Homo sapiens: one gene and its partners. The protein of the gene in region 4 interacts with the protein of the main gene of each other region in a pairwise test. Each region holds a gene or a part of one and is shown on either strand. Other genes may lie near its edges.

What was found.
Region 1: the proteins of TRIM55 (region 4) and LAPTM4A interact in a two-hybrid assay, tested with the Homo sapiens proteins (one large-scale study listed by BioGRID).
Region 2: the proteins of TRIM55 (region 4) and HROB interact in a two-hybrid assay, tested with the Homo sapiens proteins (one large-scale study listed by BioGRID and IntAct).
Region 3: the proteins of TRIM55 (region 4) and RNF10 interact in a two-hybrid assay, tested with the Homo sapiens proteins (one large-scale study listed by BioGRID and IntAct).
Region 5: the proteins of TRIM55 (region 4) and WT1 interact in a two-hybrid assay, tested with the Homo sapiens proteins (one large-scale study listed by BioGRID and IntAct).
Region 6: the proteins of TRIM55 (region 4) and RAI2 interact in a two-hybrid assay, tested with the Homo sapiens proteins (one large-scale study listed by BioGRID and IntAct).
Region 7: the proteins of TRIM55 (region 4) and MPZL1 interact in a two-hybrid assay, tested with the Homo sapiens proteins (one large-scale study listed by BioGRID).

Annotation. Positions count from the first base shown.
Region 1 is NC_000002.12:20,041,176-20,045,281, forward strand, and holds part of LAPTM4A (lysosomal-associated transmembrane protein 4A), read right to left. Parts: intron 1-4,106. UniProt on the Homo sapiens protein: May function in the transport of nucleosides and/or nucleoside derivatives between the cytosol and the lumen of an intracellular membrane-bound compartment.
Region 2 is NC_000017.11:44,158,717-44,163,369, forward strand, and holds the end of HROB (homologous recombination OB-fold protein), read left to right. Parts: intron 1-3,154; coding exon 3,155-3,216; 3' UTR 3,217-3,760; downstream 3,761-4,653. UniProt on the Homo sapiens protein: DNA-binding protein involved in homologous recombination that acts by recruiting the MCM8-MCM9 helicase complex to sites of DNA damage to promote DNA repair synthesis.
Region 3 is NC_000012.12:120,540,696-120,544,801, reverse strand, and holds part of RNF10 (E3 ubiquitin-protein ligase RNF10), read right to left. Parts: intron 1-4,106. UniProt on the Homo sapiens protein: E3 ubiquitin-protein ligase that catalyzes monoubiquitination of 40S ribosomal proteins RPS2/us5 and RPS3/us3 in response to ribosome stalling.
Region 4 is NC_000008.11:66,144,129-66,148,234, reverse strand, and holds part of TRIM55 (tripartite motif-containing protein 55), read right to left. Parts: intron 1-4,106. UniProt on the Homo sapiens protein: E3 ubiquitin ligase that plays an important role in regulating cardiac development and contractility, muscle growth, metabolism, and fiber-type differentiation.
Region 5 is NC_000011.10:32,411,345-32,415,450, reverse strand, and holds part of WT1 (Wilms tumor protein), read left to right. Parts: intron 1-4,106. UniProt on the Homo sapiens protein: Transcription factor that plays an important role in cellular development and cell survival. Recognizes and binds to the DNA sequence 5'-GCG(T/G)GGGCG-3'. Regulates the expression of numerous target genes, including EPO.
Region 6 is NC_000023.11:17,854,414-17,858,519, forward strand, and holds part of RAI2 (retinoic acid-induced protein 2), read right to left. Parts: intron 1-4,106.
Region 7 is NC_000001.11:167,766,380-167,770,485, reverse strand, and holds part of MPZL1 (myelin protein zero-like protein 1 isoform a precursor), read right to left. Parts: intron 1-4,106. UniProt on the Homo sapiens protein: Cell surface receptor, which is involved in signal transduction processes. Recruits PTPN11/SHP-2 to the cell membrane and is a putative substrate of PTPN11/SHP-2.

The DNA of each region.
Region 1 (4,106 bases), on a different chromosome or scaffold from region 4:
ATGAGAATAATTTAAAAATAAATATTTTATAAAGTATAAGTAATATTAACCATTTGAGAGATAAGATGCTTAACCAATACACCAGAAAAAAATTAAAACTAAAGAATCATTACAAATGGTTCATGTTCGAAGCTACCTATTTATTCATATACCAATCTCAGAATTTCTGGATTTGAAGAAGTTACTGTTCATCTGTTATATTTATTCATCAGATGCCCGAAACCCCTCCACAGCATCTCTCATCAGGTGACAGAGAACTCACTATTTCCTCTAGAGCTAGACTCAAATGCTTAAGAGACTTACCAAGATACTGAAAGTCACTTATCTACTAGTCTTACTTTTGTGTGTGTGTGTGTATGTGTATGTGTGCGTGTGTGTGATATGGAGTCTCACTCTATTGCCCAGGGTGGAGTGCAGTGGTGCAATCTCAGCTCACTGAAGCCTCCCCTTCCTAGGCTCATGTGATCCTCCCACCTCAGCCACCTGGTAGCTGGGATTACAGGTGCCCACGACCATACGCGGGTGATTTTTGTATTTTTAGTAGAGACGGGGTTTCACTATGTTGGCCAGGCTGGTCTCTAATTCCTGACCTCAAGTGATACACCCAGCCCTAGCCTCCCAAAGTGTTGGTATTACAGGCGTGAGCCACCACGCCCGGCCTTAAATCTACCTTTTGAGATAATGTGCTCTCCCTTCTAAATAAGTGCTCCAATACCTGAAAACAGCCTCCAAATACTGTGTTCTCTAGAATAGACATGCAGATCTTTAAGCCATTCCTCTGACTAGCATGTTTCCTAGCTACCTATTTCCCTTTTGTCTTCCTCTTTACACATGCTCCAGTTTGATGGACATATATTAAAATGAGGTAAAGTCACCCTGGTCAGAACATAATGGGATCTCAGTTCTCATATTCTGGCTAACGAATTTCAATTAATGCAACCTGAAGTTGTACTGAGGTTTTTTGTTTTTGTTAGAAACAAGGTCTCACCATATTGCCTAGGCTGGTCTTGAACTCTTGGCCTCAAGTGATCCTCCTGCTTTAGCCTCCCAACATGCTGTGATTACAGGCATGAGCCACCGCACCCAGCCTGCATTGGCTTTACAAATTTTCTGAATATCACATGAGAGTAACTCCCTAAAACACCAAGTTCTTTTTCACACTTGATTGTGCTAAGCTCCCACCTGTACAGTTGGATTCAGAGGCCCAAGCATAGGCCTTAATATACCTGTAATTGAGTTTCATCTTATTACATTCTTGCCTATGAAGATTTTCTGGATGTGGATTCTGACACACTACAGATTTACTGTCTCAACTTCCTGAATTTAGGATCAGCATGTAATCAGTATTTCCATCTAAGTTACTAACAAAAGAGAACAGAGGTGAGGACAAAGCTGCCAGAGGCTGCCCCTTCCCATTAACTAGCAACTTCTGAATAAAATTGTTTAGCTCTTTAGAGGAACAGCCTGCTGAAATCCCATTATAATATCTGAATTTTCCTAGTCTCCCAGGGTTGTAAATCCATTTTAAAAGGAAATGAGTTGTGCCTGTAGTTGTTGGCCAATCCCTGTGGTATCCCAGGAGGCTTCACTGCATTTAAGTACTCAGAAAGAGTATTGTTAACGACTCAAGACAGAAATCTCACGTAGGATTGGAGTTAGGCTTCCTTATCTAGCATAGTAAAGTTCACAGAATTTGCCCTCCTTCCCTTTGTGAAAATGTGAACATCTGGAATTTTCAAGGGTTAAGTTCCTATCAGTAGTATTTTAATTTATTTAGTTTTTGAGATGGAGTCTCGCTCTGTCGCCCAGGCTGGAGTGCAGTAGCGCAATCTCGGCTCACTGCAGCCTCCACCTCCTGGGTTCAAGCGATTCTCCTGCCTCAGTCCCCGGGGTAGCTGGGACTTTTTTTTTTTTTGAGACCAAGCCTTGCTCTGTCACCCAAGCTGGAGTGCAGTGGCGCAATCTCAGCTCACTGCAGCTTCCACCTCTTGGGTTCAAGCAATTCTCACACCTCAGCCTCCCAAGTAGCTGGGACCTTTTTTTTTTTTTTTTTTTTTGAGACCAAGCCTCGCTCTGTCACCCAGGCTGGAGTGCAGTGGCACGATCTCGGCTTACTGCAGCTTCCACCTCTTGGGTTCAGGCCATTCTCACACCTCAGCCTCCCGAGTAGCTGGGACTACAGGCGTGCACCATTCAAGCCTGGCTAATTTTTGTATTTTTAGTAGAGGTGGGGTTTCGCCACGTTGGCCAGGCTGGTCTCAAACTCCTGACCTCAAGTGATCCACCAGCCTTGGCCTCCCAAAGTGCTGGGATTACAGGTGTGAGCCACTGTGTCGGCCAGCTATCGATAGTATTTTAAACAAACTATTATATACTTCTCTCCTGTTTCACCTTGAATGATAAACACACAGGAAATGCATTTTCCTTTTATCAGCTGAAGTCATTTCACTAACATCCGCTAGATAAGCAGATCAAGTTTTATTTTAGGGTAGGTGATCTAAACAATGCCACAATATGAAATTTGGAATCAACCAATATTTATTGAGGATATGCTTTATGACATGTGTATTTACGTGTATTACTTCACTTATTCCTCACAACAACCCGTGAAGTAAGTATTACCAAAGCCTATGTGTAGATGGGGAAACTTAAGATTCAGTAAAGCTATATAACTTGTGTTAAGCTTGCTGAGCTGACAGATGGGAGAATCAGGACACAAGTCTGGTTTTTAAGACATCCTCCTTCTCAGCACTACGTGATTATTAATAAACATTCCCCAGTAACTCCTATTTTAAGGTCTTTCCCAAAGAAACCATTATCTAAGGCTATAAAATGTTTAGACTTTACTGTCTATGTTCAGCAGCAAGCCTCTTTCCTTGCATTGTTCAGAGGCAAGGCATGATATCTTTCAATTCTTGAGAGGACTTACCAGGAACAATCACTTTTGCAAGGTGGCTCTCCCCAGTTGAAAGCTGATTTTTTTTGTTGCCCACATTTGCTGCAATGGGTTTTGGCCAGCGTGTGTGGTGTATGAGTATGAGCTAATACAACTAGGTGAATTAATTACTGAACTATCAGATATATCTACTAAAACGTTATATGTTCTGTGTATGGAAATCAGTTTGAAATCAATTAGGCAAACTCTTCTTTGCTAAACACAGCATAGTCACAGTGAAAAAGCTCTCTGCGGTACAGAAATTCCTTTGTCAAGAAAAGCATGCAAACCCAATTACTAAATGAAGGGAATGACATGCCAAAAACATTTAGGAGTTCTATTTTCCCTTCTTAAATATTTTTATTACATGAAGGATTTCTAAAAATCTCACACCTATAGTCCCAGCTACTTGGGAGGCTGAGGTGGGAAGGATCGCCTGAGCTCTGGAGACCAGCCTAGGCAACAATACTAAGTCTGTCTCTTAAAAAACAAAAGAACTCTTCACTTTTCTTCTCTTCCATGGATAAGTCACACGCTCATCCACTATTATCTTCTTTTAGTACTAGAGACACTTCAAGTTTAATTTCACTGTGGGTCATACCACTAAATATTAAACAAAATAAATCGTAGGGCCAATCAGAAGGACCAAGAAACAGTGAAATAAATTTCAATGCTACTTCATTAAAAGCTTTTTCCAAATCTTCTTTGAGTTAATTATATTCCATTAGATCACATCATTTCATTAGAACCCCAACTTACATCTTAAAGTATTACACTGGAAAACCCATCCTTGTGACTTAAAAAAATTTTTTTTGTAGAGATGGAGTCTCACTATGTTGTCCAGTCTGGTCTTGAACTCCTGGCCTCAAGTGATCCTACTGCATTGGCCTCCTAAAGTGCTAGGATGACAGGCACGAGCCACCGCTCCTGGCATCCTTTGATCTTAAAGATATTCACCAACGAACGCCTACCTTGTGCTCACATGTAAGCCCTGGCAACTTATCTCTGATTAAAGTTGATATTTCTAAATTACATGTTTAGCTTTTCAAAAAATACATAAAATTAACTGTAATCTTACAATACAAAATTTCTCTGAAAATATCCAACTATGTACTAACTATTACAAATATTTATTCCTGATTCACTTTTTCCTTTCACTGTATTCAGGAAA
Region 2 (4,653 bases), on a different chromosome or scaffold from region 4:
CTCACTGCAAGCTCCGCCTCCCGGGTTCATGCCATTCTCCTGCCTCAGCCTCCTGATTAGCTGGGACTACAGGCGCCCGCCACCATGCCCAGCTAATTTTTTGTGTATTTTTAGTAGAGACGGGGTTTCACTGTGTTAGCCAGGATGGTCTCGATCTCCTGACCTCGCGATCTGCCCGCCTCAGCCTCCCAAAGTGCTGGGATTACAGGCGTGAGCCACCGCGCCCGGCCATGCCCAGCAATTTTTAAATTTTTTGTAGAGACAGTTTTGCCATGTTGCCCAGGCTGGCCTCGAACTCTTGGGGCTCAAGCGATCCTTCTGTCTCTGCCTCCCAAAGTACTGGGATTAGAGGCATGACCTACCGTGCCCAGCCTGGTCTTTAGCTTTTCAATTCCAAAAATTCAATCCTGTCTGGCCCCAAAGTTCACAGGATTATATGTGGGCAGAAACCTACCCAGGTGCCGAGGCAAGAGACTGAAGGCACAAACTGTTCCAGTATAATACAGAAAATAGTTAGAATAAGAAAAGTTATACTAGAAATAGGATATAGAGATGATTATATATGGATATTACCAATCATTAGTTTTTAGTACTAATTTCTGTATTATTATTATAACTGAGAAAAAAACCAGCCAATATAGAGTCAAGAGCTGAAGGGACATTGTGAGAAGTGACCAGAAGACAAGAGTTGGGTGCCAGATGTAGGGTCCAGCCCTACTGGGCCTTGTGGGTTTTCTCTTCGTATGCAGAGACGAGAGATTATAGAAAAATAAGACACAAGACTAAGAGAAAGTAGGAAAGACAGCTGGGCCCAAGGGGCCACTACCACCAATGCGTGGAGTCCGGTAGTGGCCCCAAATGCCTGGATGCGCTGCTATTTATTGTATACAAGGCAAGGGGGCAGGGTAAGGAGTGTGAGTCATCTCAAAAGATTGATAAAGTCAAGCAAGTCACGTGTCCACGTGATGGGGGCCTTTCCCTTTGTGGTAGCTGAAGCAGAGAGGGAGGACAGCATATGTCAGCGTTTTTTCTGTGCACTTATCAGAGAAATCAAAGACTTTAATACTTTCACTAATTCACTACTGCTATCTTCCAAGAACTTAAAAGAAGAACCAGGTATACAGGCGGAACATGAAAGTGGACAAGGAGCGTGACCACTGAAGCACAGCATCACAGGGAGACGTTGAAGCCTCCAGATGATTGTGGGCAGGCCTGGCTAATGTCAGGCCTCCCACAAGAGCTGGTGGAGCAGTGTTCTCGAACTCCCCCAAGGAGAGTTCCCTTTCCCAGTCTGCTAAGTAACAGTTGCCTTCCCAGGCACTGGCGCTACCGCAAGACTGAGGTCTGCTAAGTAACGGGTGCCTTACCAGGCACTGGCGCTACTGCTAGACCAAGGTGTCATCAGGCAGCCCTTATCAGGGCGTGACAGAGGACTTTCACTCTTGTCTTCTGCTCACTTCTCACAATGTGCCTTCAGCTCCTGACTCTGTACTGGCTGTTTTTTTTCTCGGTTATAATGATAATACAGAGATTAGTATTAAAAACTAATGATTGGTAATATTCATATATAGCTGGGCACGGTGGCTCACTCCTGTAATCCCAGCACTTTGGGAGGCCAAGGTGGGCGGATCACGAGGTCAGGAGATCGAGACCATCCTGACTAACATGGTGAAACCCCGTCTCTACTAAAAATACACAAAAAATTAGCCAGGCGTGGTGGCGGGCGCCTGTAGTCCAGCTACTCGGGAGGCTGAGGCAGAAGAATGGCATGAACCTGGGAGGCGGAGCTTCCAGTGAGCCGAGATCGTGCCACTGCACTCCAGCCTGGGCGACAGAGTAAGACTCCATCTCAAAAATAAAAAAAATCCATATATAATCATCTCTATATCCTATTTCTAGTATAACTTTTCTTATTCTGTTTTCTTTATTATACTGGAACAGTTTGTGCCTTCAGTCTCTTGCCCTGGCACCTGGGTAGGTTTCCACCCACAATTATGGATAGGTGTTCTCACACTACCTAATTCACAGTATACCAATGGATAAACCACAAAGGCCATTATATCTTGTGAAAAAGCATATGTCTCTTATCCTGGAATCTTGCATTGCCTGGAAGCCTGCACTCTTTCTTTGTGAGACAAGCCAAGGCATCACCAGAAGGTTGCTGGTAGTGACAGAGAGTTGATTATAGAATATTAGGGCTGGTGGGCCGGGCATGGTGGCTCATGCCTCTAATCCCAGCACTTTGGGAGGCCAAGGCAGGTGGATCACGAGGTCAAGAGATCAAGACCATCTTGGCTAACACGGTGAAACCCCATCTCTACTAAAAATATAAAAAATTAGCCAGGCGTGGTGGTGGGCGCCTGTAAGTCCCAGCTACTCAGGAGGCTGAGGCAGGAGAATGGTGTGAACCCAGGAGGCGGAGCTTGCAGTGAGCCGAGATCACGCCACTGCACTCCAGCCTGGGCGACAGAGTGAGACTCTGTCTCAAAAAAAAAAAAAAAGTTTGTTTCAGGTAAAGTGGGGTTGATAACAGGAGCTAACTGGAGATGCCCTACCTATGAATGTTTATTGAGGCACAGAGCAAGCACTCAGTCAGTATTAGCTGCTGCTAGTAAATAATATTGCTAGGGATTATCGAGGTCAGCTGTGTCCAAGTTCTCGGACATAAGTACCACATCTGAGAACTGTAGTCTTACACAGGCACTTTGAGGAAGGGGGTGATATTTTCCACTGTCAGATGAGAAGCCAATTAAGGAACTGTGTAACTCTGAACACATCTGATGGCTTTTCCCAGCCCTCTTTCTCCTTCAGCCAATGAGAGTTGCACTAGGTGACCTCTGAAGCCTTCTTGTTTGGCACTATGACTGGATGGAAGGAGAGGAATCAGTGAGGCTCAGGGGAATCCTCTTCCTCGTCAGAATGGCCCAGGGATTACGCCCCCGCCTTTTGTCATGTACGGGTACAAGGGGAGCAGAGGGAAGATGGAAGTCAGGCCAGCCTCAGGCCCATTGGCATGGGTACCACTGCCTGGAGGAGCCGCCTGCCCAGCTATACAGCCAGGTCCAGGCCCTCCTGAAGGGCAGAAACTTTGGACCTGAGTCACATGGAATGCTGATGTTGTCACTAAGGCTACCCATCATTCCCCTCTCTGTAGATGACCTGGATGGACTCCTGAGTGAGCTTCCTGAAGACTTCTTCTGTGGGACCAGTAGTTGAGACTGCCCCAACGCAGGACAACCCACCATGAGCAGGCAGCTCTGGGCATGTGTCTGGTCACATCCAAGGGGGAGAAGAAGGCCAGCATGATTGGAGAGTGGACACAGCCGGGGGGCTTCTGTGGTTGCTCCCACCCTGGGTGTTTTCCCTGAGAGCCCCCTCATCTCTGCGCTGCCCTCACTTTGGGCCTTCCTTTGCCGTTGGCACCAGAATCCGGCCGGAGACTGGCTCTCCAGCCAACAAGAAAGGCCTGTCACCCTCGCCTTGGGTGTCCCTCTCCTGCCTCAGCTTAATTTTAGAGGATATTGGGCCTGGTTTTCTTGTCCCTTCATACCCTAGTCCCTGGACAGCTGAGGAGATGAAAGGAGCCACACCACAACAATGGCGGCCTGCCCCTCCACACAGGGGAGAAGCACGCTCAGGCTTCCTCTGCTTTGTCTCTTCAGACCTGTGGTTGCTCTGCTCATCCATGCCCAAGGTTCCCAGGTGCAGGACAGAGGTGTGGCCTATTGTACCTTGTTCTGAAATAAAGCATCTCCTGCTTCTTCTGCCTCCCTTTCTTTTCCACCCCCTGCTGCTCCTGCCTAACTGCCCTGCCAGTGCTGTGTGGCCACAAAAGGGCTCAGGCAACTCTTTTTCTCTTTTTTTTTCTTTTTTATATACTTTTAGACTTCTAAAATTTTTTTTTTGAGACGGAGTCTCGCTCTGTCACCCAGGCTGGAGTACAGTGGCGCTATCTCGGCTCACTGCAAGCTCCGTCTCCCGGGTTCATGCCTTTCTTCTGCCTCAGCCTCCCAAGTAGCTGGGACTACAGGCTCCTGCCACCACGCCCGGCTGATTTTTTTTTTTTTTTTTTTTTTTTAGTAGAGACGGGGTTTCACCGTGTTAGCCAGGATATTCTCAATCTCCTGACCTCATGATCCACCCCGCTTGGCCTCCCAAAGTGCTGGGATTACAGGCGTGAGCCACCATGCCCGGCCTTAGACTTCTAAATTTATAGATTTATTTATTGCAAAGATAGTACAGAGAGTTCCCACATACCCCACACCCAGTTTCCCAGTTAATATTATTTTATTTATTTATTTTTGAGCTGGAGTCTCGCTGTCGCCCAGGCTGGCGCAATCTCCGCTCACTGCAACCTCCACCTCCCAGGTTCAAGAGATTTTCCTGCCGGCTGGGCGCGGTGGCTCACACCTGTAATCCCAGCACTTTGGGAGGCCGAGGTGGGCGGATCATGAGGTCAGGAGTTCGAGACCAGCCTGGCCAACATGGTGAAACCCCGTCTCTATTAAAAATACAAAAATTAGCGGGGCGTAGTGGCACGCACCTGTAATCCCAGGTACTCAGGAGGCTGAGGCAGGATAATTGCTTGAACCCAGGAGGCAGAGGTTGCAGTGAGCCGAGATCACGCCACTGTACTCCAGCCTGGGCGCTGGG
Region 3 (4,106 bases), on a different chromosome or scaffold from region 4:
ATGTCAAATTCTCAAAAAGTGGAACTGACAGATAAAATATGGTCATTAAAGCCATTTACACATCCCTAGGTTGCTTTCTAGAACCGTTACACCGATTTATTTATACTCTAACAACATAATAATTACTTATGCACTTTATTTATTTAGAGACAAGGTTTTGCTCTGTCACCCAGGCTAGAGTGCAGTGGCACAATCTCGTTCACTACAACCTCCACCTCTCAGGCTCAAGCCACCCTCCCACTTCAGCCTCCTGAGCAGCTGAGACTACAGGCACTCACCACCATGTCCAGCTGATTTTTGTGTTTTTTGTAGAGACGAGGTTTGCCTTTGTTGCCCAGGCTGGTCTTAAACTCCAGAGCTCAAGTGATCCATCTGCTCGGCCTCCCAAAGTGCTGGTATTATAGGCATGAGCCAACACTCCCAGCCAATTTTTTTTTTTTTTTTTGTAGAGTTGGGGTCTCACTTTGTTACCCTGATTGGTTTCCAACTCCTGGACTCAAGCAATCCTGCCTCGGCCTTCCAAACTGTTAGGATTAAAGGCATGAACCACCATGCCTGGTTTATCTTTTTTTTGTTTTTAACAGTCTCACTCTATTGCCCAGGCTGGAGTGCAGTGGCGCAATCTCGGCTCACTGCAACCTCTACCTCCCGGGTTCCAGCAATTCTCCTGCCTTGGCCTCCCAAGTAGCTAGGATTACAGGCATGAGCCACCACGCCTGGCTAATTCTGTATTTTTAGTAGAGATGGAGTTTCGCCACATTGGCCAGGCTGGTCTCGACCTCCTGACCTCAAGTGATCCACTCACCTCGGCCTCCCAAAGTACTGGGATTACAGGCATGAGCCACCATGCCCAGCATGTTTTATTCCCCCAGGGTGGAAAGCAGTGGTGCCATCATAGCACACTGCAGCCTCAACCTCAGCTTAGCATCTTTCCAACTCAGCCTCCCAGCTAGGACTGCAGGTGTGCACCACCACACCCAGCTAATTTTTAAATTTATTTTGAGACAGGATCTTACTTTTGTCACCCAGGCTGGAGTGCAGTGGCATGATCTCGGCTTACTGCAGCCTCCAACTCCTGGGTTCAAGCAATCCTCCTGCCTCAGCCCCCCAAGTAGCTGGGACTCCAGGCATATACACCATTCTTGGCTTAATTTATATTTTTGATATAGACGGGGTTTTGCCATGTTGCCCAGATGGGTCTCAAACTCCTGAGCTCAAGCGATCCACCAGCCTCAGCCTCCCAAAGTGCTGGGATTACAGGCGTGAGCCATCAGGCCCGACCTAATTTTTAAATTTTTTTGTGCAGACGGGGGTCTCACTATGTTGCCCAGGCTGGTCTCAAACTCCTGGGCTCAGGCGATCCTCCAGGCTCAGGTGATCTTCCCACCTCAGCCTCCCAAAGTGCTGGGATTATAAGCATGAGCCATGGGGTCTGGCCCCACTTTTATCTTATTACAATGATTCTCAATCTTGCCAGTTCATAGGAATCACACAGATGAGCTTTTACGGAATTCCTATGCTCAGGCCTCACCCTCTAAGATTCTGATATAACTATACTAAAGTACCTGTCTGCAGACCTGTAATATTATCTGAGTAATTTTTTTTAAACTTAGAAAAAATTATTTCTTGGTAAGTACAATCACCAGCTTTTTATAGCAGGCTAAATAAATTCAAGGTTAAACAATGCCTCAGAAAGAAGAAAATGTAAGTTAATAAATCAGAGACCAAATTTTGAAAGCAACCACTTCACGCCCATAGTCTGTCAACCTCACTGTATAAATGAGATGTCATTCTCTCCAAACCTGACCACCTAAAACCTGGGAGTCAATCTAAACCATGTGAAATGGCAGCAATGTAAACAGAACAGTCACAGAAACAGGCTAGGTTCACTCCTACCAGTTACCCTTAAATCCTGCTTACGGACAGTGACCCTTACCTTAGTTACAATTTAAGGCCAGGCATGGTGGCTCCCTGTAATCCCAGCACTTTGGGAGGCCAAGGCAGGCAGATCACATGAGGCCAGAAGTTCGAGACCAGCCTGGCCAACATGGTGAAGCCCCATCTTTACTAGAAATACAAACATTAGCCAGGTGTGGTGCCACACGCCTGTAATCCCAGCTACTTGGGAGGCTAAGGCATGAGAATCATTTGAACCCGGGAGGCAGAGGTTGCAGTGAGCTGAAATCACGCCACTGCACTCCAGCCTGGGCAGCAGAGTGAGACTCTGTCTCAAAAAACAAATAAATAAAGTTAGAACTTAAAAACTAAACTTTTACCTATTACTTCAGTTAGCAACAGTTAGTGTCAAACATGGCACTAGTAGTAACAATTAGAAAGCAAAGTTTCAGCGCTGGACTTGGTGGCTCATGCCGGTTGTCTCAACACTTTGGGAAGCCAAAGCAAGAGGATCACTTGAGTCCACGAGTTTGCGACCAGCCTGGGCAACATAGCAAGACCCCATCTCTACAAAAAATTTAAAAATTAGCCCAATGTGGTGGCACACACCTGCAGTCCTAGCTGAGAGGCTGAGTTGGAAGGATTGCTTAAGCCAAGGTTGAGGCTGCGGTGTGCTATGATGGCACCACTGCTCTCCACCCTGGGCTACAGAGTGAGCCTCTGTCTCAAAAAAAGAAAAAGGCCAGGCACGGTGGCTCACGCCTGTAATCCCAGCACTTTGGGATGCTGAGGCGGGTGGATCACGAGGTCAGGAGATCAAGACCATCCTGGCTAACATGGTGAAACCCTGTCTCTACTAAAAATACAAAAAATTAACCAGGCGTGGTGGCGGGAGCCTGTAGTCCCAGCTACTCAGGAGGCTGAGGCAGGAGAACGGTGTGAACCTGGGAGGCGGGGCTTGCAGTGAGCCAAGATTGCACCACTGCACTCCAGCCTGGGAGACACAGTGAGACTCCATCTCAAAAAAAAAAAGAAAAAGATAAACCAGGCACAGTGGTTCAAGAGTTCAAGGATCTCTTAAGCCAAGGAGTTCAAGGTTTCAGTCAGTTATGTTTGCACCACTGCATGCCAGCCTAAGTGACAGAGCGAGAGCTTGTCTCTAAAAAAAAAAAAGCCAGGCACGATGGCTCATGCTTGTAATCCCAGCACTTTGGGAGGCCAAGGCAGGTGGATCACGAAGTCAGGAGATAGAGACCATCCTGGCTAACATGGTGAAACCCCATCTCTACTAAAAATACAAAAAATTAGCCAGGCTTGGTGGCGGGCGCCTGTAGTCCCAGCTGCTCGGGAGGCTGAGGCAGGAGAATGGCGTGAACCCGGGAGGCGGGGCTAGCAGTGAGCGGAGATCGTGCCACTGCATTCCAGTCTGGGCGACAGAGTGAGACTCCGTCTCAAAAAAAAAAAAAAAGGAAAACTCAGGGGATGCAGAACCCCAGCTAACTCAGCCACATTCTCTTGCTTTGCTTTCCTTAACTCCATTTCACATCACCTCAAGCAAAGGAGATTCTACGAGGATAGGTATATAAAGAAAACACATATCCTCCAACCTCATTATCCAAGACTGTTTCAGATGATCCTGGACCCTACCTGTTTGACCCTAACTGCTGCTTTCAAGATGCACCTCACGGTTTGCATAGATTTAGGTAAAGCCAGATTCTACATGGCAAGGGCTTATTAAGAAAGTAAAATGGCCAGACACGGTGGCTCATGCCTATAATCCCAATGCTTTGGGAGGCCGAGGCGGGCGGATCACCTGAGGTCGGGAGTTCGAGACCAGCCTGACCAACATGGAGAAACCCCGTCTCTACTAAAAATACAAAAAATTAGCTGGGCATGGTGGCGCATGCCTGTAATCCCAGCTACTCCGGGGGCTGAGGCAGGAGAATAGCTTGAACCCGGGAGGTGGAGGTTGCGGCAAGGCCGAGACTGCACCACTACACTCCAGCCTGGGCAACAAGAGCAAAACTCTGTCTCAAAAAAAAAAAAAAAAAGAAAGTAAACTGGCACTCAGCAAGAAGGCTGTCTTCATTTCTTCACTTATTACCACACTGGCAAGGAAACAGTTTCATAATGCTTACAGAAATGCTCACTGATAAGACAGTAAACTGCTCATTTCCAAAACACATAACAACTGACCACATCATGATTAG
Region 4 (4,106 bases):
ATTAATTATCCAGTTCATCTAGTCATTGGCCTTTTGGTTTTTCAATCCCTGGTAAGCTTGGTGTGCATGTATGCCAATCTCCTTGGACTTGACCATCTCTGGGTCCAGGACCTTTATAGCTGAGAGCAGGTTGTGAGCCATAGTGATCTAACCTAGCTCTCCCGCACAGTGAGAGCTTCTTGGGAATCCAGCAAATTTATTTCTGACATCTCTGACCATTCTATACCCTTTATTACATATTCTTTCATTTTGGTAAACATTGAAGTCTTTTATGTCATGTATTGCTTTCTTCCTTTATGTGAATTTCTTAAATATCCAAAGTATATTTTTTTTGAGGGTAGAATCTGGGTCTGCCTAGGACACAGAGCACCTTGGATAGTAGCTGTTCACTAAATATCTGTTGAATAGATTTTGTGGTTTTTTTTTTTTTTTTTTTTTTTGAGATGGAGTCATGCTCTGTCACCCACGCTGGAGTGCAATGGCGCGATCTCGGCTCACTGCAAGCTCCACCTCCCAGGTTCAAGTGATTCTCCTGCCTCAGGCTCCTGAGTAGCTGGGATTACAGGCACATGCCACCTTGCCCGGCTAATTTTTGTATTTTTAGTAAAGAAGGAGTTTCACCATATTGGTCAGGCTGATCTCAAACTCCTGACCTCATGATCCACCCGCCTCGGCCTCCCAAAGTGCTGGGATTACAGGCGTGAGCCACCAATCCTGGCGGAATAGATTTTTTTTTTAATGTGTTTCATTTCCTCTCAATTTCTCTACTATTCTCAGTATGGAGTCAGGGAGAATGACCTAAACCAAATTGTTGATTATGAAGATACTCTGCAAATGTGCAAGAAATACATCCCTTACTCCATTGCCTTCCTTGGAACAGTCAATTCTCATCACAGTTCCCAACCAAATTATAATGCATGGAGATCCAGTGGTGCCAACTATTTTAATAGTAAATGCCTTACCACTGTCATCCACCCATTCATTCATGGATTTAACAAACAATGCATGTCATTTGTGTCAAGACTCTGGGGATCCAAAAAAGAATTAACATAGTTCCTATTCTCAAGGAGCTCACAGTTCACTGAGAAAGACTATAGACCAATAATGTAATTCAATATGGTAGGCTGAATAATGTAAATATTTTAGAGATTTATACCAGATGCTTTAGAAGCATTTATGGAATCTTTGTCCAACCCTTTGTGTAGGTGGAGGAACTTTGAGGGGAGCCAGAAATGTTGACTCAGGAAGAGTTTCTCAGAGGAATTAGTACTTGAACTTGACCTTAAGGAGGAATAGGAGTAAAGGAGGTTGAGGAGGGGATGAAAATGCTTGAAGTCCTAGCAGTTGTGAAAGTAATGGAACAAGGGCCCATGCAGCATGTCAAGATGTGGAAATTGCCTGGCTTGACAAATTTCCACTCATTTCCAGCCCTTTAGCTTGAGAGTCGGACTGTTCAACCAGGCCTAGAAACTGAAACCTATTAGTAGCTTTCCAATCAAACTCTCTTTCACTGTATTATCTTTTGTTCCAACCTTCAGGCAACCAGGTGCCCACTGTACACATGAAATAAGCCTCTCTGATATTTAGAAGCTCTACTGTGATCATATAATGGTTTCCAGCTTGTTTCTCCCAAATGAGTTGTGCACTTGAAACATTTATAATATGAGTATTATATTAAGATGTAATACAGGTAGAAAGTCTTTGATTCACAAAAATTTTCTCCTATGTGATTTAATATGTGAGAACATTCAAGTTTATGGCAGCCAAGTCATTTACAATGAGACAGATGTGAAGCATGTGTAATCTAGTGTACTCTCTCAAGTCAAATAAAGATTAAATCACTTATTTTGACCATATAATTTTTTTTGGCAGTTTAAATGGAATAACTAATTTCATTCCTATATTACTTGCAATTCCAAGCATTATTTTATTTCTATTCTGTTTTTTTAAATAACTTATATTGAATGTTAGTAAAACTACTATCATTTGTTTATACTTCATAGTGCAGGAAATGCTACCCCATATGCGGTCTATGCTTTATTAAAATTATTATATCATTAAATACTTTGTAAAGTGCTTATAATATTACCTGGCATATATTGGTACTGGATCAGTGTCTATTAAATTTAGGTACAAATTCCTTAACCTGAATTATTCAGTTGTGGAATTTTGAAGCTGCATGGAATATTAGAAGTAACCTGCTCCAAATCAATCATGTCACTCATGTGGAAACTGAAACCCAGCAGAGCTGTCACTTTCTCAAGGCCATCCGACCATTTATTATTGGTGCCTGGCCTACAGTCAAGGTCTTTGAACTCCTGGGTCATTGCTACTCTCACCACACCCAGCTGGGCCCATATTTTAAGTAACTTTAAAAAATTATATGAAGTGCTTGTAAATGGAATATATGCCTTTTAACAAATGTACTGGCCAGGTGCAGTGGCTCACACCTGTAATCCTAGCACTTTGGGAGGCCAAGGCTGGAGGTGGAGGCTGCAGTGTGCCAAGATCGCGCCATTGCCCTCCAGCCTGGGTGACAGAGTGAGACTCCACCTCCAAAAGAGAAAAAAAAAACAAAACCCAAATTCACTATGCTTAAGGTAGATTTTTTAAAGGCAAGGCATCTTAAATTGTTTCAGAATTATATTCCTAGTTCTTTCAACAAAATTCACCAACCACTGACTTTGTACCTGGCATTGTATGATCTAATAACCTGCCATAATTTTCCATTGTTTTGGAGAATAATGAACAAAAAAAAGTATCATAAATGATAAATATAAAATCATTATATTTTCTAATTCCTAATGGAAAAAACTTTTTTCTCTTGTTTAATTAGCTTTTAATATAATTCTATGCAAAAAATGGTAAGAGTTAGATAAATCTGTTTCTGAAACGGCAAAAATACATGCCTCTTCTTTGGAATTACGAAATTGGAACTTACAGACTTTTAGAAATTAACTCAAAATGTTCAGGTTAACCTAATGTCATATTCAAATGTGAAATACTCCATGAAATGAAGTCTCCTATTTTTTCACACTCTTTGAGGTAGAACCCACACACAAGAGACTAACTTAGATGTCCCCTAATCTTTCTTGGCTTCAAGACCATCAAAGTGCTGTGAAAGTCAGGGAACAATAAACACCTCAGGTTATCAATTTGCCCTCTAAGCTGATGAGGGAACAGATATGTGCCATGAAAAAAAAATGTTCTCAGAGGCCACCTAGCTACTGACAGTGATGACTCTGAATTTCAGTACCTACTGTGCCTTTGTTAATGTGAATCTGCAACACTTTCAGCAGTGACTTTCTAGCAGCCTGAAAAATGGAATAGGAAAAAATGTGGACTTTTGCATTGTGAAAACGTCTGCAGACAGAACACTTTAAAGGACTGTTGTTACCTACAAAAGCATGATAGCAACCATATTTGTCTCTTCTCCACAAAAACTTCCTCATCTCAAAGACTGCTCCTTGCTTTTAGCATACTTTTTCATTTACTTGAGTAAAAAGGTATGTATCTTTAAGACCAATTCGGAGCCATACACCTCCCCTCTTCTCTGGACAGTAATTCAATCAAGATATACACTTTTTGAGCTTTCGAGTTTATCTTTTCAAATAGTCTCCATTTTCTTCCTTTTGATGTCTGTGCTTCCTACATCCTCTGTGTGTGCACCTGTGTGAGTGTGCTTAGCAAGTGAAGTATACCTCCACCATAAATGAAGTAGGTATTGGTCTCCGGGTATACTCTGATGCAAAGCCTCTGGCTGCTGCACAGCCTTCCTCCTGGGTCTGCTAGGACAGTTATATTTCTTGGCTTCTTGGGAGAACCAAATTAAAGTTGTCTATAATATTTTAATGAAAATAAAATTCATCCCATTTCTAGGGAGAATGCAGTGTGGATGCAATATACCAAAAAGGGATGATTTTATAAAGTGAAGATCATCCCTCCCATATTGAAATGGTAAGATGATGATGGGTGGGATATTTGTTTCTAACCAATGCCAACATTTCTGGATGTAAAGAAAAAAAATCAAATGGTCATTTGGTTGTTTCCTTAGAAGTGAGTAGGTAACATTTAACATTGACCTAAAGCCATTGTTGAACTGTTGC
Region 5 (4,106 bases), on a different chromosome or scaffold from region 4:
TGTCAAACTCCCGACCTCAGGTGATCCGCCCACCTTGATCTCCCGAAGTGCTGGGATTACAGGCGTGAGCCACCGTGCCTGGCCTTTCTACCTGTTCTTAACTCGTCTTAAGTTCCTTGGCTTCTTGGTCCCACCCTTTCTTTCTGGCTCCCTTCCTTTTCTCCTTTCTCCTCTCCTCAGAACTTGATAACCTTCCCCAAGCTAAATAGCAAGGATAGACAGAACATGATTGTGAAGTGAGCAGTACATTTCAGTTTCAAAAACTTCTTCATGCTGTAATACAGGGGCTTGTTTGTTCAGTTACAAAAATTACAGATAAGGAATTTGGCATGTATTTGCAGCTGGATATTTCCATGGTTAAGATAATTTCGATACTTTTTAAGGTCTTTAGACATGTACTGTTAGTCACTTGCTGAGGAGGCAGAAGCTGTATTATAAGGATGAAGCACAAAGTGTGAACAATTTGTTCTGTTCAATCCTACATAAGAAAAAAATGAGAAGAGTTTTCATTGGTCCGTTACTTACATCTTAGAAAGGATTTCTGAAATAAAAATGTATTTCTTTTTTTTTTTTTTTTTGATATGGAGTCCCACTCTGTCACCCAGGCTGGAGTGCAGTGGCACGATCTTGGCTCACTGGAACCTCTGCCTCCTGGGTTCAAGTGATTCTCCTGCCTCAGCCTCCTGAGTAGCTGGGATTACAGGCATCTGCCACCATACCTGGTTAATTTTTGTATTTTTGGTAGAGACAGGTTTTCGCCATGTTGGCCAGGCTGGTCTTGAACACCTGACCTCAGGCGATCCGCCACACTTGGCCTCCCAAAGTGCTGAGATTACAGGTATGAGCTGCTGCGCCCTGACTAAAAATGTATTTCTTGGCCTGGCATGGTGGCTCACGCCTATAATCCCAGCACTTTGGGAGGCTGAGGTGGGTGGATCACTTGAGCTCAGGAGTTTGAGATCAGCTTGGACAATGTGGTGAAAACCTTTCTCTACAAAAAATACAAAAAAATTAGCCAGACGTGGTGGCACATGCCTGTAACCCCAGCTACTTGGAATGCTGAGGTGGGCGGATTGCTTGAGCTTGGGAGGCGGAGGTTGCAGTGAGCCAAGATCAGGCCACTGCATTCCAGCCTGGGCGATAGAGTGAGACCCTTCCACAAAACAAAACAAAACAAACAAACACAATATATATGTATATTTCTCGAATATTAACTTTATTCAGGGAGCTGTTATAAAAAGGGCTAGATGGCCCAACAGATAGTTCCACAAAAGAACAACTGTTTTGCAGAGCAAAAATTACAATTAGCTAATTGCCTACCATCTTCTCTCACACTGTAGAACATACTGTAAATCCACGAATTTCCGCTTCCATTTTGTGAACTGGACATTTATCTAAGGATGTATATAAACAGTATTGGGTGCCGTGTGAGGGGCTGTACATGTTTCCTCTTCTGATCTGATCTTACAACACCCCCAGGACACTATGGCCACATCCAATTTTTTAGCTGAGGAGGTGGAGAGATTAAGCTATCTAACCAAGGTCACATAGTAAGTGAGTGGCAGAGCCATGTTGGAATCAGTTCTGTCTGACTCCAGGACCTGGGCCCTAGATTAGAGCTTCTTAAATGGGTGGAAACCTTTTAGACTGTGACCACAGTTAGAAATACCCTTTACAGTGAGATCCCATATACACACATGTGCACACACATACACACACACAACATAGATTTTCACTGAGCAATACTCTTATGACATGCTCTGCATGCTGACTTTTTCTCTCTATCCTATTTCATTTTTTAAAATGCTGATTGTGATGTACTAGATTGATTTTACAACCCACTGATGTGTCATGACCCACAGTTTGCCTCACTTTTAGCATTCAAACATGGTGACACCTTGGCTGTCTCCTCCAAACTCATGAACAGCCCAGAACTGGATTTAGTTGAATCTGTAATTCCAGTAGAAAGTTTGGCCTTTCCCCAGGGGAGACCAATCTGGGTTGGGGTCATTGTTCTTTGTGATACTGGATTTACTTTCTTTTGCCATGGTATGAAAAGTATTAATATGGAGAATACATTTGAGAAAAGGTATTCCATGAAGACAAATTCAGACACATAACTTTTTGTGTTCATTCATAACTAGTGTCTTGACACTGTTTGAAATCAATGTTAAGAAAAATCATGTGACAAGGTTGATCTATTACAGGAAAAACTGGTGATTTGGTTCATGTTTTAGAGAAGAAAGATGTAATTTCCATATCACTCATAAAAAAGAGGCATTATCAATTTTTTATTAAAAGATCATGCACCTCAGACTAAACCCCACTAAATGCTGGTTCGGGTCTTCTTTCCTTGAAAATGTTTCGTTTCAAAAAAGTGGCTTCACAAAGAATAGGTTTGTTTCCTTGTATCCCAAGCAAGTCCACGGAGACATCTTTCATTAGATGTCAGGGAGCAGTGTTACAATGGGTGGGGATAGGATTTTATAAAGAACATGGGCAGATGAAATGAAAACTTGCTGTGTTAGAGGTGGGATATACTTGTGTGACTGAACCGCTCCTTTCTCCTCCTTCTCCCTTTACTCATTTTCTAATTTCTGCATACCCACTGGGATCACAGCTACTTTTATGACCTCCAATGGGAGAATGTATTTCAATTTAAGTCAGTGAGAAGGTACTTTACGGAAAGTACTTTCTTCTCCCTCACCCCCAAACAAATGAAATTAGATTTTTAAAGTGGGTCCCTGGGAGAAAACGTTGCTGGGGAATCTTTCTGAGTATGAGTCCACCATTTTGAAGCCTTCTATTGATGGTGCCTTGTGTTATCTGCTTTCTATTTCTTTGAAAACATTTTCTGTGTGTTCTCAATGGCTGCTGATTTCCGAACAAGCCTCTCCTACCCTGTTGGCCTCTGTTTTGTCTCTTCTGAAGAAAATATCCTGCAAAATGGAGAAACACATCAACCTTGACTGTGATCCAAGTTATTAAAACAAGGAAGAAGTTATTCTCTGGGGACTCGGGTAGGGGGAGTGGGAAATCGAACACAATAGAAATGTGAAAGGAGTGCTCAGCAAAATGAATGTCCCTTTGCTGGTCCAAGAAGTTCACAGGCTGTTGGGAACACACAGTATTCAACCTGTGGATGCTTGAGAGGAAAAACAAAAAAGACTCAACAATGAGTGATGTGTGGTGAAAACAAAGCTGTGCGTTTTGGTAGGGCCAAGGCTGTCGAATCTGGAGAAAATCCCCGCTAGACATGGTCTCATCCCTGAGAACCTGTGCCAAAAGAGATAGCTGTCTTCTCTGGCTGGGAGCTCCAATACACAGCCCAGCACCTTCCCTCGCGGGCTCGTGAACATAAGGTATCCGTCCAAGAGATTTACTTCTTGGAAATAGATAGCTTGCTTTTAAGTGGCTCCCGGAGCCTGAGATGCAAAGTGAAGGTGGGGAGCCTCAGTTCTGTGAATATCAGCATTGCCGAGCCTACTCCATCTCCACCCCCAGCAACAAGTTATTAATTTTCCACCGTTTAAAGTTTCATTTAATGCCATTTAAAGAGTTTTTTTTCTTTATTATTGCCTTGCATTGGACTTGGCCTGAGGTCTGTTAACCCTGCCAACCAGAACGAAGAATGGGACTCCAGGGTTTGATAAAGATGGAGACTCGTGACTTAGCTCTGTGTCCCTCTCACTTAGTGTGGACTGATTCGGAAGCTTCTTTCCTTTGCTTCTCACTTTTCTGCTTCTTCTTTCTCCTCCCTGGCTGTTGGCCTTTTCTATCCTTTTATTTTTGGACATGCATTTGATGAATGTATTGAATTTTTTTATTATGTAAGTAATGTGTATAAATTATAGAACAGTTAGAAAATACAACTACGCAGAGAAGGAAATTAAAACTCCCCCCAAAAGCCTAGATGAAACTATGATGATAATGATGTTGCACAAAATTTTAGACCCTTTCCTGTCCATGCATGTACATTTGTGTCATTTTCTTTCTTACAAAAATGATTGGCTTCAGGTGAGATTCAATTCAGCAAATGCATATTTATAGGCCATCACGAAGTTGTCATGATAGCTTTGACTTCTTGAAAATATTCTCAGCCTCTT
Region 6 (4,106 bases), on a different chromosome or scaffold from region 4:
TAGAACATTCTATGTGGTTCTGCAGTGCCCCCACTTTGGGGATGGGCTTTGATCAGGAAAAACCTATGTTCATACAGTCAGCCTGGAGCTTCCAGGCTTAAAGCACGAAGGAAAGAATGGCTGACAGCTACACCATTTCAACCCTTCCAGGCCTCCATTTCTTTCTCTGAATTATAAGGGAAAAGTGGCCATACACACAAAGGCAAAAATAACAACAACAATAAAAACGCCCAAACACACCCAGTCTTGGCTGCCAGCACGGCCCGATTCTGCTGCTGAAAAAGAACAGTTGCTACAGTGCAGCTGGAGGAGCTTTTCCAGGGAACTGGTAATACCCTGGCTGTTAATGAATTATTTTTCGCCAGAATGTCGGATTCTTCCTGTGCTCCAGTAAACAGTCTGCTTCTGCCATGTGAAACAAAACCAACTCCTTCTGAGGAGCCCAAGGGGGTCAGCCAAGGGTCCCCTGTGAGGGCAGCCCCCTCAGGAGCCAGAGCCACAGGCGCCTGACCTGTAAATCACTGCAGTCCCAAGTTCATTATCCCATCCCTTTCCGTCTATTTATGCCATGACCAGTGCCTAGGGAAGGACCCAGAAATGATGTGATGTGATGATACCATAGTGCCAGCCAAAATCCTTCTTCTACCTCCCTGAACTCTCCTTTGGCCAGGTTTCTTCATCTGCTGTGCTATGGTTGTGTGAAATTGACCTTCCTTGCATTTATTCTGTCTCCCTCGCAGAAATTTTATTTATGTCCTTGCTCTTGTTCTCATCAAGCTGTCAGGAAATGACAGTGTGCATTCTCTTTTTTATTTTCTCTCCTTTAAGGCTGGCCCTGGCCCTAAATAACCCACTGTCAGCATGAGGGTGTCTACTGGCGACATTACTCTCCAAGCACAAATCCCTGGGATGGATAGTACTTTAAGCTGCTACTAGAGCAGGTGTCAAGGAATTCTCCGATGGACAAGGACACCGGCCTGTGGGGTGGGTGGGGTCGAGGAAAGGAAAGAGCCATTTCATTCAAGCCAGTCCTGCCTGTGCCCATTCTATTGGGTTTCTGGGTCCCACATTCCTCATAGAGCATGAGACTGAGCCAACATGCTCATGGCTAGTTTCCACGGGGAACCTCCATCATGGCACCTGAGCTACTGAAAATCAAAATCGCTTGATGCCAGGCTGCTGTGGCTACTGACTCAGCCCCCTGCCTCCCACCTGCCATCGAGATGGAGAGCGTTTATGTCCCCAGAACATCTGGAGGCTGAAGTCACGAGGTTGGTTAGTTTGCTCCAGAGCAGCTCTGTCTAATAGAAATGTTTATGTAATTTAAATTTTTTTTGTAGTCACATTTAAAAAAATAAAAGAAGCCACTAATTTTAATACTCTATCATATTTAACTAATATATTCAAAATATTATCATTTTACCATGTAATCAATGCAAAGCTTATTAATGAGCTATTTTGGATTCTTTTTTTGTATTAAGTCACAGAAATCCCATGCATCTGTTATATTTAATGCACATCCTAATTTGGACCAACCACTTTTCAAGCACTCTATGGCTGCATGTGGCTAGTGGCTAGTGTGTGGGACAGTGCAAACATGTGACATTTCCATCATCATAGAAAGTTTTATTAGACAGTGCTGTGCTGGAAGACCAAAAAGTTGTGGGAAGAGGAGTGACAGGTGTGAGCAGAGTGTGCTCCAAAGTTCTCTAGAATTACTGAGTTGTTGGAGCTAATTACAGCAGAAATTGGAATTACAAGGATTGGGATGTTCAAGGAGCCCAGCCCTATGTCTCAGTAGAGATTAAAATGGGCTTTTATGAAAGGCCCTGGGACCATGCATAGTCTGAATGTGTCTGTCCCCTCCAAACTCCTGTGTTGAAATCCTAATCCCCAACGTGATGGTATTAAGAGGTGGGGCATTTGGTTGGTGATTAGGTCGTGAGAGTGGAGCCTTCATGAATGGGATGAGTGCCCTTGTAAAAGAAGCCCCAGAGAGGTCACTTGCCCCTTCTACCATGTGAGGGCACAGCAAGAAGATGCCATCTCTGAACCAGGAAAAAAGCCCTCACCAGACACTGAATCTGCCGGTATCTTGATCTTTGACTTCCCATCCTCCAGAACGGTGAGAAATATGTTTCTATCATTTATAAGTCACCCAGCCTATGGGATTTTGTTATAGCAGCCCAGACGGATGAAGGCAGACCATGCCCATGTTTTGCGGTGCTGCCCCACAGCAGTGGGAAGGCCAGCAAGTATGATCATGGCTCAAGACATCTGCTGGCTAAGCTGCCTCCATCTTAGCTGTTCTGGTCTGTTCAGGGCAGGGGCTGGGAGAGAACACCAAAGTCACATACTTCTTCCAATAACAATTCTGGGTTTGAATCTAATTTGGTGAAGCAGATACAGAAACGTGATCAAATTATGTGTGCCTGTGTCTGTGTGTGCATGTGTGTTCGTGTGTGTGTTCTTGGCAGGAGAGAGGAGGGTCATGTGTGAACTCCAGAAGTACTAACCTGGCCGCCAAAATCAGCTTCTCACCAGCTGCCATCAGAGGACAGTGAAGTGGCAGACTCAAGAGGCTCATCAACATTGTGAGCCATGAAGGAAAGGCTTTGAGTCTGGAAAGAATGAGATGATGGGCACCCGGGCAGACGATCAGGTGGGAGGGAGAAGTGGTAATCAGAGGCATTCTCCAAAGACAAGAGCTGCCAACTCTACAGCAAGGATGTCACCCTGATCCCCAAATCAAGCTTAATTCAGAATCCCACGCAGGCTTTTGTGTGTGGGAAGAGTGCAATTAGCCATCTTTCCCCCTCATTCTCTGAGGTCTCCCTCATATTCTGTTCAGGGAGGCAGCATTGAGGAGCTCCTCATACATAGATTCAAAGCCCAGCTCCCTCGGTGGCTCCAGAATTTCTAGGAGTTTGAAGACTACCACCTGGTTGGAAGGGGGCTACGGGGCTTGCTTTAACGATACATTTGCATAGCAAGTTCCCTCCTCATTTTCCTATAGAGTGTTTGTTTATTTGAGACAGTTTCTAGTTAAAAATACCTCACCCAGCCTTTGGTCCCTCGTGGACTTTGAGTTAGTTGCTTAACCTTTCTGAGCCTTAGTTTCCTCACCTACAAGATGGGAATAATCTTGCCCATCTCCCATGGATTTTGTAAAGATTAAACTGGGGCTTGTCAGCATGGAGCTACCAAGGGCTAAAACTGGAATATGACACCAGGAACTTCAGGCCCCCAACCAAACGTACAAATCTCTGGATCTCTCCTTGCTGGGTCTCCCTTAACAATGATCTACAGCCCCCTCCCCACTGCCATTCACTCCATCAGTGCCATCATTTAGTCACTCAACTCTCATTTATTAAGCAACAGTTGGGTGGTGGGGACTCCAAGATGAAAGGGTACAGTCTGTCCATCTGACACAGGGTATTTCGGATCTATCTACTTGGCACATAAGTATGCACTGTGGGTGACTGGGTTGCCCACTGGTGGGCTTCCACCTTCCCCCCAATCCCCACCAACTGTGTACCAGATTTTGCCAAGGTGGAGGGGCTGAAAGATCCAGCAGGAAGAGATCCAGAGATTTGTATGTTTGGTTAGGGGCCTGGAGTTCCTGGTGTCATACTCCAGTTTTAGTCCTTCGTGGTTCCATGCTGACGTGTCCCACTTTAATCTTTACAACGTCTATGTGAGATGGGAAAGATTATTCCCATCTTGTAGGTAAGGAAACTGAGGTTCAGACAGGTTAAGAGAAATAAATAAGAGACCTGGAGCAGGGGAATAGGGACATGTTGCCCCTTTAAATCATAACCACCAAAGTCTGAAATCAGATACACAACTGGAAATTTATCTGAGCCTCAGATTCCTTATCTGTAAAATAATTCTTCCATCACAGGGTGGCTGAGAAGGTTTACCACATGTGAAGTGCCTAGCAGACAGAGGCCAACAATACATGTTAGTTCCCTTCCCAATTTATTTCCCTCCACTACCATCCTCTCCAAAATTCTAAGCTTAGGGGAGAAGCCAGAGAACAGACGTTTCCTATTTTCTTATCATAAATTTGGAGCACGCTGTGCAGGGCTTTCTGCACATCCAGA
Region 7 (4,106 bases), on a different chromosome or scaffold from region 4:
CCTTTAGCCCCTTTCTCTTTCCACTCCTCAGTCTCTCCTCAGTCCTGCTTTCAGCAAAGGAACTGTCTTCTCAAAGTAAACCTTGTCAAACTCAGCACCTGGAAGCAGGGTTAAGGCCCAGTGGGAGGGGATCTATCCTCACACTTGGCTCTAATCCAAGCAGCTATGCTGGAGGCCTGATGTCTTTGTTCTGGTTAATGGACGGGGTGATGGTGGAGCTGGGGATAGAAACCAGCTCTATTAGCAATTCAAACAGAACATTTTCAGAACCCTTTGAGCACGGTGAAAACCCCAGTGCAGACTCATCCATTCCTATGATTTAATGATCATCTAGATTTTCTTAACTCCCAAACCTCTCTCTCCATCAATAGCGTCCCCTAAGCTCTAGACTCCTTGCCTACTCACTTTACCACCTGGCTGCCCCTCTCCCCCAAGCTTGTCACCCTCTCTTACAAACTTCATCTTCCCCTCTTCATGTATCGTGTCTTCACTGATGGCTACTGTTTCTTTCCAAAACCATAAATCTTGAAGTCATCCTTGATTCTCTTTCTTCCTATCCAGTTAATCCCCCAATATTGTCAATGTCTCATTAGTTTCTCTCAGTTCTCTCTTCTCTCTATTCGGTTCCCACTGACAATATCTGTTTTTATGTTTTCATCATCTTGGACTATGGCCTCTTAACTGGTATGTCTAACTCATCATCTTCCACAATGCCTAAATGATCACTGATAAAGAATAATGGTTATTATTATAACATTTATCAAATATTTACCCTGCATTTCATATGACCTAAATGCTTGTTAAGAACCGTGAAGGGTCTGAGATTTTACCCTACTTACAAGCTAACAAAGTTAGTTGGCCACAGGTTCATAGGTGCTGACAGAAGACACGGACTCCTGTGAAATCTTCACTCCCATGAAGAAGACTCAGAAACAAAGAACCTTATGAGCAGAAAGCATGTGTTTGTTTCTCTTGCCCCGCAAGTCCCATAGCCATGACATGGAGGGGCTCACATGGATGTTGTGCAGGCAGAGGCGTTGCATCACAGCCGAGGAACCCCAAGCTCAGGGAACACTATTCTCTTACAAGGGGCAGAAGACATGTCTGACTTCAGCCCTGAAAGGAGACACTACCTTTACTATACTCAAGAATACACAAATTTGTCCTTTGCTCCAGAGGGTAACATCATCTCTGCCTTCCAAAGCTAGTTACTGTATAAAAAAAGTCCAGAACAAAGGCAGCCAGTGCCTTTGCTAGCAAGGTGTGCAAAAACGTGAAAGACCCATAGAAAACTGTCTCCCAACAACTCTCTAGCCCTCACAACCACCCTGCAAGGTGAGATTCGCCTACCTGATATTTCATAAATAGGGAATGTGAGGCTCAGGAAACCTTGGTGACTTTCCCAAAGTCACAGGTTTTAGAGATGGAATTCAAACTCAGCTCTGATTTCAAAGCTTATGCTATTTCCAATGTTTAAGGCCTCTCAGGTGAGATCATGTCTTATCTGTTCAAAGTTCTTCACTCTCTCTTCTTCACTAGAAAATGAACCATAAACTCTCAGCTTTGCAAATGAATCCTTCCATCACCTGCTCTCTGCCTTCCCTTCCCACAACATCTCCACATATTCCCTGCCTTGCATTTCTGAACCAGCGGGGATGAGCTACATGATGCTGTTTCTCAGCACTGGGTCTGAGACAGCTCCCTCAGTCAGGCTCCCTCATTGAATGGGGGCCATTTGAAGGCAGAGGATAAGATGTATTTATCTCTGTACTCCTTAGCACTTTGGACACAGCAGGAACTACATAGTTTGCTGAATCAAACTGAGGAATAACGTCTTGGTCAAACCAGTGAGAGATGGAAATAAAACAGTGAAAAATTCACAGAAAAGACTAGAATCATTATCAATCAATATTTTTAAAGTACAAGCCATGGTGCTAAAGCTATGAGGTATACTAAAGATGTAAGACAGGCAAGTCCTCTTAAAACACCCATATTCAGGAAGAAGAGGAAAACTGTCATATTAAGGGATCTGTATTATAGGAATGGCCCAGATAAGGGTAGTGAGTTTTAAGGGCTAAAAGGTTAAAAAAAAAAAAAGAGGCATTATGGAGGAGACAGAGGGTAAAAATGGGGTACAGCTTAAATGACAAGTGTTCAGAAGTAGGAAAACAAAGCACAAAGCATTTTTACTAAACTGGAAGTGATGCCATAAGAGAACAGAAGTGAGGCTAAAGTGGTAGGCTGGGCCAAATTGTAATGAGCTTTTAATTCTAGACAAATGTTGTCCACAATGGGAATCTAGGTTCCTGATAACCTGCAGTGGCAAGGTGAAAGAGCTGTTCTAAGACTATGCACCTGCTGGCATATGAGGGTTGGATTGAAAGATGAGAAAAACAGAAGCAGAAGAATAACAAGGGGCTACTGCACAAGACCAGGCACACAGTTAACATTGCTCAATAGACAGCAGAGACACAGGAAGGCTGACAAAAAGCTAGACACCAGAAACAAAGTAGGAAGAACCAGCAAAGGTTCTTATTTCTTGGGGGCAGAAGGGAAGTGGTAAGGGACAGGGAAGGAAAGGACAGAAAACACAAAACAAAACAAAACAAAACAAAACAAAACAAAACAAAATGATTACAAAACTCATCTGCAGATGAACACAATTAACCTAAAAAAAAAAAAAAAAAAAAAAAGCAGAAAAGGGAAACAGAAGGGAGAAAAAATGAGTTCAGTTTCAGACATGTGGATCCCAAGGCCATGGGCCAAAAAAGCCATCCACAGTATGGCTTTTGAATATACTGGGTTTGAATATACTTTTCCTGTAAAACCTATAAAAACAAAAAAGCAACCCACTCATCTTATTAAATGTGTCCCGACATTTTGGAATTAAAGGATCCTATGTCAATAACTGAACATGCTGGGATTAACTGCAATCAGACTCGTGTGTAAGTATAAATTGATTAGCTAAAAATATTAATCAGAATTACAGCATGTTCTTAATATTAAGTTTTGAGTTATGTAAACCTTCATGGACCTACACGACAAGACTGTTTCCAGCATAAATGGAACCGCTCTTTAAAAGAAAGTTATTACCTCTGGGTGGCTCTCACACCCACTCTTGCAGAAGACTTCAGTGGGAAATCTTTAAATGTTTAAATAGTTCTTTGGACTCTCTTGAGTAAACTTATGTGTTTAATCTTGCCTCTATGGGAACATTAGTGTATGTTCTATGCTGATGCCATATTTACGTGAAGCAGAGAATGCCTCTTTATGTCTTTCCATGGTATCTGTATGGATTCCTGTGCTCACCCTTATGGCTACTGTAAGGGAAGGCCTCTCTTATAAAGACCTCTAGACTATGCATTCTCCATAGGGGAGATTCTCCCCCAAGGGAGCAAACACTGGCTCTTGGGTGGGAAGCTTTGAGAAAATCTTTCTCTTTTATATGTAAAACAGTTGCAGAGGATATCTACAATATTAAAATTTCATGGAAGGGGGCAGAGATTAAGAAAAATGTGAAAAGGCTCCTTTTAAAAATAAATTTTAAAAAATACTGAGAAGCACTGCCTTAGGTAATCCCTAAAACCTATGAGGCCGTAAATATTATTAGCAGATTTTTCTACCTGAGAGAGAAATAATACATAAGGGAAATCATACCGTATTGAAGTTTAAACAATTCTAACCTGTGTGGTATGGCCACAGGTGAATAACTCTTGAGTCAGTGTCTCCCATCCTCCCCACCCTGTCTTCCTCATAGAGCTGTGAAGATTAAATGGCATAGGCATATGATGGGCCCAACATCTAGGTGGTGATCAACAATGTAACTCACCATTCAGAAGAAGAATTGGGCATTCTTAAAGATAGATGACAGACTGTCCTTGCTAAACACTGACAACCTGAAACATGCAACAGTACTAAAATATGTGCCAATATATGAAGGGCATTCCACATGCTGGGAGAGCAACAGTAACAACAAATGGTGTATTTTAGTAACTCAAGAGCTAGACACTCTCCTGAGCACTTATCTTGAATAATCTTACTTTATCCTCCTAACACCCTTGTGTGGGAGGTTTTATCGTCTCCATTTTACAGACCAGAACCAAGAT